Homo sapiens: one gene and its partners. The protein of the gene in region 3 purifies or fractionates together with the protein of the main gene of each other region. This does not show direct contact. Each region holds a gene or a part of one and is shown on either strand. Other genes may lie near its edges. The genes, in order: PPP4R2, LGALS9 and LMCD1.

What was found.
Region 1: the proteins of LMCD1 (region 3) and PPP4R2 purify together in Homo sapiens (co-immunoprecipitation; one large-scale study listed by IntAct). This does not show direct contact.
Region 2: the proteins of LMCD1 (region 3) and LGALS9 purify together in Homo sapiens (co-immunoprecipitation; one large-scale study listed by IntAct). This does not show direct contact.

What each region holds. Positions count from the first base shown.
Region 1 is NC_000003.12:73,003,206-73,006,855, reverse strand, and holds part of PPP4R2 (serine/threonine-protein phosphatase 4 regulatory subunit 2), read right to left. Parts: intron 1-3,650. UniProt on the Homo sapiens protein: Regulatory subunit of serine/threonine-protein phosphatase 4 (PP4). May regulate the activity of PPP4C at centrosomal microtubule organizing centers.
Region 2 is NC_000017.11:27,644,598-27,648,247, reverse strand, and holds part of LGALS9 (galectin-9), read right to left. Parts: intron 2,935-3,650; coding exon 2,899-2,934; intron 2,388-2,898; coding exon 2,337-2,387; intron 1,702-2,336; coding exon 1,660-1,701; intron 1,219-1,659; coding exon 1,130-1,218; intron 979-1,129; coding exon 816-978; intron 1-815. UniProt on the Homo sapiens protein: Binds galactosides. Has high affinity for the Forssman pentasaccharide. Ligand for HAVCR2/TIM3. Binding to HAVCR2 induces T-helper type 1 lymphocyte (Th1) death.
Region 3 is NC_000003.12:8,564,213-8,567,862, forward strand, and holds part of LMCD1 (LIM and cysteine-rich domains protein 1), read left to right. Parts: intron 1-1,219; coding exon 1,220-1,435; intron 1,436-3,227; coding exon 3,228-3,386; 3' UTR 3,387-3,650. UniProt on the Homo sapiens protein: Transcriptional cofactor that restricts GATA6 function by inhibiting DNA-binding, resulting in repression of GATA6 transcriptional activation of downstream target genes. Represses GATA6-mediated trans activation of lung- and cardiac tissue-specific promoters.

The DNA of each region.
Region 1 (3,650 bases), about 64 Mb from region 3:
TAGGAACAGGAGAATCATAAAATAGCCAACAGGTACTCATTGGAAATCACTGCAGACCAATTTGAGAACAGCAGCTGAAACTGAGATGGATTTTGCCAACTCTAGCAATGAGTGAATAGACTGCTCTGAGTTCGAAAAGACGAAGCAGGTCTTGCTCACTTGAGCTCTTGAAAGTGACCCAACAGTGCTCCAATCTAGAGGTAAGCCCCACAATGAGGAGAAAGAGTCAAGAGAAATGAAGACAAGGTTCAAAAAAAAGCAGAAGTGGAGAACACAGCCTGGAATTTCAGAATGCAAACTGCCGTGTTCTTAAAACACTTCACAAAACCAACGAGAGTGCTCCATGTAGTTAGAAAAGCTACTCTGGGCCAAGTGTGGTGGCTCACGCCTGTAATCCCAGCACTTTGGGAGGCCGAGGCAGGTGGATTACGAGGTCAGGAGTCAGCCTGGCCCATGTGGTAAAACCCCGTCTCTACTAAAAATACAAAAACTAGCCAGGCATGGTGGCGCGCGCCTGTGGCCCCAGCTACCAGGGAGGCTGAGACGGAAGAATAGCTTGAACCTGGAGGCAGAGGTTGCAGTGAGCCGAGATCATACCACTGTATTCCAGCCTGGGCAACAGGGCGACACTCCATCTCAAAAAAAAAAAAAAAAAAAAAAAAAAATTGTGGCATATTCATACGATGCATCTACTCAGAAATAAAAAGAAATACAAACTATGTTGAATAGAAGAAGCCAAAGAATACATACTGTATGGTTCCATTTACATAAAATTCTAGAACTCACAAACTAATCTACATTGACAAAAAGTTGCTTGGAGGGAAGGCAGCACACACAGGGAGGGAAGATTACAATGGGGCATGAGCAAACTTCTGGGAGTAATGAATGAACATGTTCACAATCTTGATTGTTGTGATGGTTTCCTGAGTGTAGATATGAAAACTTAGCAACCTGTACATTTCGAATAAATACAGTGTATTGTATGTCAATTATACCTCAATAACACTGATTTTTTTTTTTTTGCAGACAGAGTTTCACTCTTGTTGCCCAGACTGGAGTGCAACGACGTGAGCTCGGCTCACTGTAACCTCTGCCTCCCGGGATCAGGTGATTCTCCCGAGTAGCTGGGATTACAAGCATGCACCGCACCCAGCAAATTTTGTATTTTTAGTAGAGATGGGGTTTCTCCATGTTGGTCAGGCTGGTCTTGAACTCCCGACCTCAGGTGATCCGCCGGCCTCAGCCTCCCAAACTGCTGGGATTACAGGCGTGAGCCACCGCACCCGGCCCGTAACACTGCTTTTTAAAAAAGGACTCAAAAGAAGAATTCAAGACAAAATGATAAGTACTGAAGATATGCAAAGATGCAGCAATATAGTCTCCCTCCCCTCCCCAACAAAAAAACCAAAGACAACAATTCACTTTCTTGAAATATTTAATATTTTTTAAAAATTTAAAAATTCATATTGAAAGACTACACCACCAGTGTGTAGATAAGTGGATAAAAAAAAAAAAAAAGACCACACCATATACCTGAGTACAATGACTCCAAAATATCCAACATTGATTTTCAAAATGCTTTTAAAGATCTAGTCTATAAAAACCACTGTATTTTGGCCGGGCGCAGTGGCTCACACCTGTAATCCTGACACTTTGGGAGGCGAAGGCGGGGAGATCACGAGGTCAAGAGTTTGAGACCAGCCTGGCCAATATGGTGAAACCCCGTCTCTACTAAACATACAAAAATTAGCCAGGCATAGTGGTGGGCACCTGTAATGCCAGCTACTGGGAGGCGGAGATTGCGGTTAGCGGAGATGGCGCCACTGCACTCCAGCTTGGGCAACAGAGCAAGACTCCGACTCAAAACACACACACACACACACACACACACACACACACACACACACACACGACTCCGACTCAAAACACACAAACACACACACATGACTCCGACTCAAAACACACACACACAAACAAACAAACAAACACACACACACACACACACACACACCCCACACTGTATTTTAAAGAAAAAAATCTTTTAGGAAGGTAGGCAAAAAGATTGGGCAGTTTATAAGGTAAAAAAAATTATCATCAGATGTTAACAGCTGGCCAGGCATGGTGACACCTCTGTAATCCCTGCACTTTAAGAGGCCAACAAAGTGGGCAGATCACTTAAGCTCGGGAGTTCAAGCTCAGGAGACCAGCCTAAAAACATGGTGAAACCCCATCTCTACAGAAAACACAAAAATTAGCCAGGTGTGGTGGCATATACCTGTAGTCCCAGCTACCGGGAAGGATGAGGTGGGAAGACAGAGTTTACAGTGAACCAAGATTGCATCACTGCACTCCAACCGGGGCAAAAGAGCAAGACTCTGTCTCAAAAATAAATAGATTTTAACAGTTTTACTGGGGGGAAACAATAGAATTAACAAACTTAAGACACTCAAGGATAGAAAATGTGAACCAAAGATTTTACTTCCAGCCAAAGTGACCTTCAAGATTAAAGGGCACATGCCAGGCACGGTGGCTCATGCCTATAATTCCAGCTCTTAGGGAGGCACAGGCGGGAGGATAGCCTGAGCCCAGGAGTTTGAGACCTGCCTGGGCAATATAGCGAGACCCCATGCTCAACAAAAAGGGGAAATAAAAAGGGGGGCAAAAAAAAAAAAAGAATAAAAGGCACAGACAACATACAAGACATACACATAAGAACTCCAGGCCAGGCGCAGTGGCTCATGCCTGTAATCCCAACACTTTGGGAGGCCGAGACAGGCAGATCACTTGAAGTCAGGAAATTGAGACCAACCTGGCCAACACGATGAAACCCCATCTCTACTAAAAATACAAAAGTTAGGCCAGGCACAGTGGCTCACGCCTGTAATCCCAGCACTTTGGGAGGCCAAGACAGGCAGATCACCTGAGGTCAGGAGTTCGAGACCAGCCCAGCCATCACAGAGAAACCCCGTCTCAACTGAAAATACAAAAAAGTAGCCGGGCGTGGTGGCATGCACCTGTAATCCCAGATACTCAGGAGGCTGTGGCAGAAAAATCGCTTGAACCCAGGAGGTGGAGGTTGTAGTGAGTCAAGATCGCACCACTGCACTCCAGCCTGGGCAACAGAGCAAGACTCTGTCTCAAAAAAAAACAAAACAAAAAAAAACTCCAGAAATATTGTTTCAATTAGCCGCTTTTCAATAATCTATTAAAGAATAAGCTTCATTCAGACAACCAAACTGACGAGAGACAGAGAGAATACAATGACAATGACATAAGGACTGGTTGTAGGCATGAGATATATACCTACTGTAAAACTAAGATTGACAGTTAAAAGGGAAAGTCAGCCGGGGCAGTGACTATGCCCGTAATCCCAGCACCTTTGGAGGCAAAGGCAGGGGGAGGATCACTTGAGGCCAGGAGTTCGAGAACAGCCTGTTCAACACAGCGAAACCCCGTCTCTACTAAAAACACAAAAATTAGCCAGGCAATGGTGGCACGTGCCAGTAACCCCAGCTACTCAGGAGGCTGAGGCACAAGAATCACTTGAACCCAAGAGGCAGAGGTTGCGGTGAGCTGTGATCGCACCACTGCACTCCAGCCTGGGCAACAGAGTGAGACTCTGTCTCAAAAAAAAAAAACAAAAGGGAAAG
Region 2 (3,650 bases), on a different chromosome or scaffold from region 3:
CTGGCTTGAAACACTCCTGAGGCTTTTCACTGTGTTAAAATCCAAGCTCCTTTCCATGGCTGCAAAGCCCTACATCAGTCATTTTCAACTCTGACTGCAGAGTATAATCACTTAAGGCATATTTTTAAAATACGAATGCCCAGCTGACTGCCTCATTGGCCTGGGCTGGGGTCCCAGCACTGATATTTCCTTTGTAAGCTCTCTGGGTGATTTGAATATGTAGTCAGGGTGGAGCACGCCTGCCTGCTGTTCCTGGACAGGCCACACCCGTGCCTCTGCACGTTGGCCCTAGCTGCCCCTCCCAGGCTCGCTCTATCTCATCGCTCTGTTTTGCTTTGTGCGTGGCACTGTCGTTATCTGTGACAATCTGTCCATGCTTTACTTTCCTTGTTCTTTCCCCACCTAAATTATAAACTCCCTGGAGGCAGGACCCTGTCTGTGTGCTTCATGACTGTGCCCCCAGCATGTGGGGTGCTTCCTGCGCAAAGCAGGCGACAAGAAAATGGTTGTTGAGTAAATGAAGAAATGAATAACACCTCCTTCTTGGGTCTGATTTGACACTTACTGACTGTGTGACCACAAGCAAGTAACCTGCACTTGTGAGTTTGTTTCCTCATCTGAAAAAGCAGATCCCAGCACTTCCTTCATGCGGGACAGTAATAATAATAATAATTTGTTGGCCACCTTCTCTTCTTTTGGGCCTTCATCCCAGAGGAATCAGCCCCCATACTGTTCAAGGTACCTCAAACCTCCTTTACCCCCTCCCCCTGTGCACCCATGGGAGCCTCTCCAAGCTCCAGACTGCGGTGCCTTACTGAGAAGCTCTGGCCACGGACGAAGGGCATTTTTCGGGGCAGACTTCGCTCCTCAGACCCCCAGGAGTTGTCGATCTGGGTGTTGCGGACCACAGCATTCTCATCAAAACGGGGGTTCAGGTGGAAGGCGATGTGGTTCCCAGAGCACAGGTTGATGTGGAACCTGGGGTGGGCAGCCCACCTGAACCTTTATCCACCGAATTCTGAGTCCCATTTCCTCCCCATCATCAGTAGCCTTCCTGAAGCCAGGGGAATGGCTGGACTGACCTTGAAGGGCTCTCTCTTCCCAGAGGTCACTGGAGCCCTTGGCTTACCTCTGAGCACTGGGCAGGACAGTGCCTGACAGGAGGATGGACTTGGATGGGTACAGCCCTCCCAGAATGGTGGTGATGAAAGGCATCGGCTGTCGGAAGAAGGGGGACAGGTCAGCCACCACGCGGAAGGGGAAGATTGTACCAGTTCCCATGAATTTGGGCTGTCAGCTGAGAAGAAGCCCATGATATCTTTACTTGGTTCCATAAAAGCCAAAGGAAAACTTTCCAGTGCTCCTCAAATTAATGGGCTTAGATTAGTGTCATGAAAGGAACTTTGGCCAAACACAAAAAGACTCGTTTCGTGGGGTGAAAAGGGAGGGACATGCAATGTGCTCATATTGACACGACAGTTTTAAGGTTGAAAGCTCCTCTCCACAGCCTTCTAATTCGCTGGGATGCTTTGAAGCCCTTCAGCTTAACAAATGACTGCTTTTAATTTTTCAAGGCCAGTGGATCCCCCCACAGCGGCCCTTCACCCCCAGCCTGCCCACCACAAACAGAACCTCTGCCCTCCCTGAGAAACCACTTACATAGGCGGGGTGGGGGTACATCATAGGTGGGATGGCGGGAGTCTGTTGAAAAGAAACCAGGAAATTCAATGGGAGAGCACATGGGTGCGCGAGCACTCACCCAGGCGCACCCACGCGTTCTAGAGAGGACTCCACTGTGAGGCTGACCTCGTGAGCCTTTGGCCCTTGGACTCGCCCGTCTACCTCCCTTTTCATGTTAGCCTTCCTGGAACTTCCTGCCGTGTTCCCAGACCACACCACGGTCACCTGCCCCTCAACCCCTCCGCAGGCAGCCCCACTAATTCTAAGCCCCCCTGCCTCATTTGCACCATCAGGAGAAGAGCTTAAGCCTGTGATCAATAGTGACATCCTGGGGACCCAGGATGCAGGGCCAGGAACCTCACATCCGGGTGCTGGGGCCACTGTACTCCCCACTTGGTGACAGATGGACCAGTTTCCCTCCCGGTCTCTAGGGGACTTGTCTCTTCCACCACTGGATAAACCCTGCTTCTTCCAGAATCTCTGCTGTCCCAAGGACAGCTTTAGCCACATGTCACCTGAGCCAAGCACTCAGCCCCTAGTGTCCCCATCCTCCTTGCTAAACCGCTTTCTTCCCGACTCTAGGGCTCTAGGGAGTTTAGTTTTTGGTGAAGGAGGACACTGTGCAGCTGTGAACTGACCAGAACTTGTAGACTTACAGAGAACATCTGTCCAGGGGCGCTCTGCACTGTGTGGATGACTGTCTGGGTCTGGAAGAAAGAAACCAGGTCTCACCCAGGCTCTCACGTGTGAAAACCACCAGCTCCCACCAGAGGGCGCCACACGGCAGGCACCCTCCAGGGGGCGTAACAAGCCCAATGGCCCCACAGACCCCACAGAGGGTGGGCCCAGGTGTCTCTTCTCTCAAGGGGATGAGCGAGGGGCAAAGGTTAGAACCCTGGAGAAGACAGATGGGGACGCTGGTGGCTCTGGCCCATCTTTCCTCTCGGGGAAACGTCTCTCAGCCTAGCCTCCCTTTGCAGGTGACAGAAGTGAATGTGGGGCATGGTCTTCCGTGGCTGCCCACGGGGTGGCAACTCAGGTTGTTTCATCCAACCCCCACATCCAACCCCCAACCTCACCAGGCCGGGCAGATGGTCAAGGGTCTGGTCTGTGCCCTCCCCACTCCCAATGGGAGAGGCCCAATGCCTGGCCCTGCCTCCTCCATGAGCCCAGAAAAGCCAAAATGAGGACGATCCAAAAAGAAAGCAAGAGACTTACAATGGGAGCCGGGTTGGCAGGCCACACGCCGGGAGGCTGGAGGGGTGAGGAGAGTCAGAATGGTGGTTATCGCGGGCACCACAGAATGGGAGGAGATGGTGGCAAAACTCCAGGGAGGCTCTTGTGCTCAGAAATGCCTCCCCGGACACACCCACCTCCCTCTTGCTCCCAAGCAAGCCTTCCTGAGCCCGTGGCACCCAGATTTTTACCCCCAGGTGTACAGGGCTTTGGGGTTGGGGGGTAGGGTATCCCCACTGGTTCCTCTCGAGAGAGAGGAGACTGGGTTTGATAGAGACCTCATTGCTTTCTGTAGCTCCCACAGCGAAGAGCATTACTTCCAGTGCCATATTTCACCCATAAGGTGAGAAGTGGTATTTGTTGAAGGCCTATTGTGGGTCGATTCCTGGGCTTCAGTGCTTTCCAACAAGGGAAGCAGCCTCAGCTCCTGTGTCCCTAGTGAGGCAACGAGGCTCAGAAAGATTAAGCAACTTGCCCAAGCTTGCCAAGGTGGAAGGGATCAAATCCAAAGTGGCAGCCAGTTCTGTCTGACTGTATCCAGCACACTTTCTATCCTCCCCAGAGCCAGGGCCAGCGCCAGGGCCAGGGCCAAAGTTGGGCTGCCCTGCAAATGTTCCCTGGGGCTCGACCAGTCCTGAAGTCAGCGTGGCAGGAGGCAGGTGCCCTGTCTGTACGGTGATGAGCCATAAGAAGACTGCGTAGACAAAGCGCCCCTCCTCCCAGTCCCCACTACT
Region 3 (3,650 bases):
ATTCTCTGTGCTGTTTTTGCAATTTTTCTGTAACTCTAGAACTACTCAAATATTATTATTATTATTATTTGAGACAAGGTCTCACTCTGTCACCTAGGCTGGAATGCAGTGGCACGATCATAGCTCACTGCAGCCTCAAACTCAAACTCCTGGGCTCCAGCAGTCCTCCCACCTCAGTCTTCTGAGTAGCTAGGACTACAGATGAGCACCATCACAACTGGCTAATTTTTCAATTTTTTTGTAGAGATGGGGTCTTGCTATGTTGCCCAGGCTGGTCTCAAACTCCTGGCCTCAAATGATCCTCCTACCTCCAGTTCCCAACGTGCTAGAATTAAAGGCATAAGGCACCACTTCTAGGCAAAAATATTATTTATTAAATATTATTTAAAACTCTTCATGCACGGGTAAAAAGATCCATTCAAAGTGCAAGGTAAACAAACAGGTTTTAATGTAAACAAATATGAAAGGTTCACTGATGTGCTTTCAGATTTCACACTGCAACTAACTTGAGAAAGTATCCTGTGTCAAATTTTACTGTAGTATCAAAGAAGAATATCCACAGTTGCCTGGAAGGTCCTTTAAAATGCATCGTCCTCCTTTTTCCAACTTTATGTCAGTGTGAGTTCAGATTTTCTTCATGTATTTCAACCAAAACAACAGCATGCAAAAGATGGGCTGCAGAAGCAGTTATGGGAATCCAGCAATCTTCTGCAAGTCATTGAAGAGATTTGCAGATATATAAAACAATGTCTTAAAATTTTCTTCTACTTTTTTTGTTTTGAAACATATAGTTATTTTAGTAACAAGATAGGTATGTTAATGTATTACAGGTTTAGTATTGTCATTTTTAAATGAATTAAAAAAATTTAAATTGTTCTCAGTTTTAATTTCTCTTATGGTAAATATCAATAGCTATTACCCACATGAACAAAAACTCTGTAGGGGTCTTGATAATTTTTAAGAGTATAAAGGGTACTGAGACCAAACAATTTGGGAATCACTGTGCTAAATAAATAACTTTATTTAGTCCTCGTGAATAGCCTGTTAGGTAGGCAATATTATTGTGTCGCTTTGCAGATGACAAAACTGAGGCACGAAGAGGTATAGTGACTTGCCCAAGGTCACCCAGGAAGTAGAAAGGCTGGAGCTGGAATTCGAACCCATGTCACTGTGCTCTCCTGACTTCCTTGTCTCCTATGGTCCTTCCCCATCCTTCCAGGTCTGCGAGCTCTGCAAGGGAGCGGCCCCTCCTGACAGCCCCGTGGTCTACTCGGACAGGGCAGGCTACAACAAGCAGTGGCACCCCACCTGCTTTGTGTGTGCCAAGTGCTCCGAGCCGCTGGTGGACCTCATCTACTTCTGGAAGGATGGTGCACCCTGGTGCGGCCGCCATTACTGCGAGAGTCTGCGGCCCCGGTGCTCCGGCTGCGATGAGGTGGGAGATAGCCGCGAGATGGGTTAGGGGGCTTGAGGGACACTGCTGAGGGTAAAAGCCCAGAGGCCAAGAGGAGCATGGCTTTGTGGATGATGTGTTCTACAGATTGGGAAACTGAAGTCAGGCCTCACTGCATGCTCTCAACCTTCATTTTCTCATCTGCAAAATGAGGCAGACAACCATGGGATTGTTGGGAGGGGTCAGACACAGTGCCGGTGAATCTTGTCCTTGGCATAATGCCTAGCACTTAGTAAGTACTCAGAACATAGCAGGATGAACCAGGAGGCATTGCCCACGTTCAAACCTGTATCTGCATCTCTTATTATTATTATCATGTGGTTACCTAACTCCGGAGCCTCAGCTGAGTCTCAGTTTTACTACTTATAAAATAGGGATGAGACCAGCGCCCATCCCATAGAGTGGCTATGAGGATAGATGAGATAATGCATGAAAATGCTTGCCACAGGGCCTGACCTAGGAACTTATAAATGGTAGCTGCTGTTAGTCTTACGATAATATACTATAATATGAGACTTAACATTAATATGACACAATACAATACAATATGATAGAGATGCTATGAAAGAGATTCAAGTCTCTGATACTGGTTTGATGAAAGTAACTCTAAGGTGTATTAATAATGGCAATACTAATTATGATCATAGTATGTACTATTTGCATGCCTTTGGTTGCAGGCAATATACTAACTTCATCTTTGGCATGTATGAAGGTTAGAAATGTCTTCTTTATATTGAACCAACATCTATTTTCTACCACCTTCTACGAATTGGTCACCATATGAAGTTAAGACCCTGTAGTCCTCTTACCTAATAACTCTGTTATTAAGTGATATTAAGAAGGAAAAGGACTGTCACAGGCCTGCCCTGGAGCCTCATTTTTGAAGTGACAACAGTATATGCACAATAACAATTCTCTATCATTTATTAAGGGCTTACGGTGGGTCAGTAATTTGCTACATACTTTACGTACAACATGCTATTTATATCACAACAATCCTTTAGGGAGAGATAAGCATGATTTTTTCTCATTTCACGTTTAAGAAAAGTGCAGCTCTGAAAGGTCAATGCTAATTAGATAGCCCTGACTTTGTGTCAGTCAACATTCTAAGCCTTTCATATGTAGTTGGTCATTTGGCAATCATAGAACCTTGTGGGATGGAAAGTATTTATATCCCCATTTTACAGATGTGGAAGCTGAGGCACAGGGGGATTAAGTAATTTGCCCAAAGTCACAAAGCTGGTAGATGTCTTAAGTGAAAACTCATACCCAGTTCTTGTTTGACTCCAATACTAGAAGGCCCATTAAACATTATGCTCCTCTGCACTTCCTGAGCCTCAGGGGATCCTTACAATATGTCTATTCCAAGTGTCACTTCATTCCAAGCCCAAGTGACCCTCTGTATTCTTGCTCTTGATGATTGGCCATTGGCAGTTTATCTATCCTTAAGCTTTCTTCACCAGGGTGTGTAATCCCACCTTGGAACTAAACTTTAGATTTGACCCAAAGAGTATCACAGATACCTAGATAAGTAAAACCTGCCTGTAGTGGAGGATTTTTTTTATTCCGTCTGAGAAGCTAAGATGCAACCACAACCTTCACCAAATATTATCCTTACTGCCTCAAATTTATGCCAGATTTTTCCACTAAGGCTTTAAAAGGTCAAAACAAGAATAGGATGGGATGAACCACCACCCTATAACTTGTCCTAGATATACCGTCTCTACCTAGGGACAGAAACTGAGTCATGCATTTCTCCTGCTCCCCTCCCCAGATAATATTCGCTGAGGACTACCAGCGTGTGGAAGATCTGGCCTGGCACCGAAAGCACTTTGTCTGTGAGGGTTGTGAGCAGCTGCTGAGCGGCCGGGCGTACATCGTCACCAAGGGTCAGCTTCTGTGCCCAACTTGCAGCAAGTCCAAACGCTCCTGAAGGGCTGCCCACCCACAGCCAGAATCCACAGGATCCCACCGAGAAGGAGAGCCAGGTGTGCCGAGACCATCCTAAGGGTCCGATGTGACAGCAAGCAAGTGAAATAAACAATGATTTGCTTTTCAGTGAGAATATATATATGAGATATATATAGATATATATTCTAGGTTGGGTGGTGGTAGATCCTTGAGGGTCAGTAGTTTCAAAACCAAAAATATTCTAAGAAGTCTTAGGATGGAGTTCCTTTTCTTTCTGTTGTTGTTT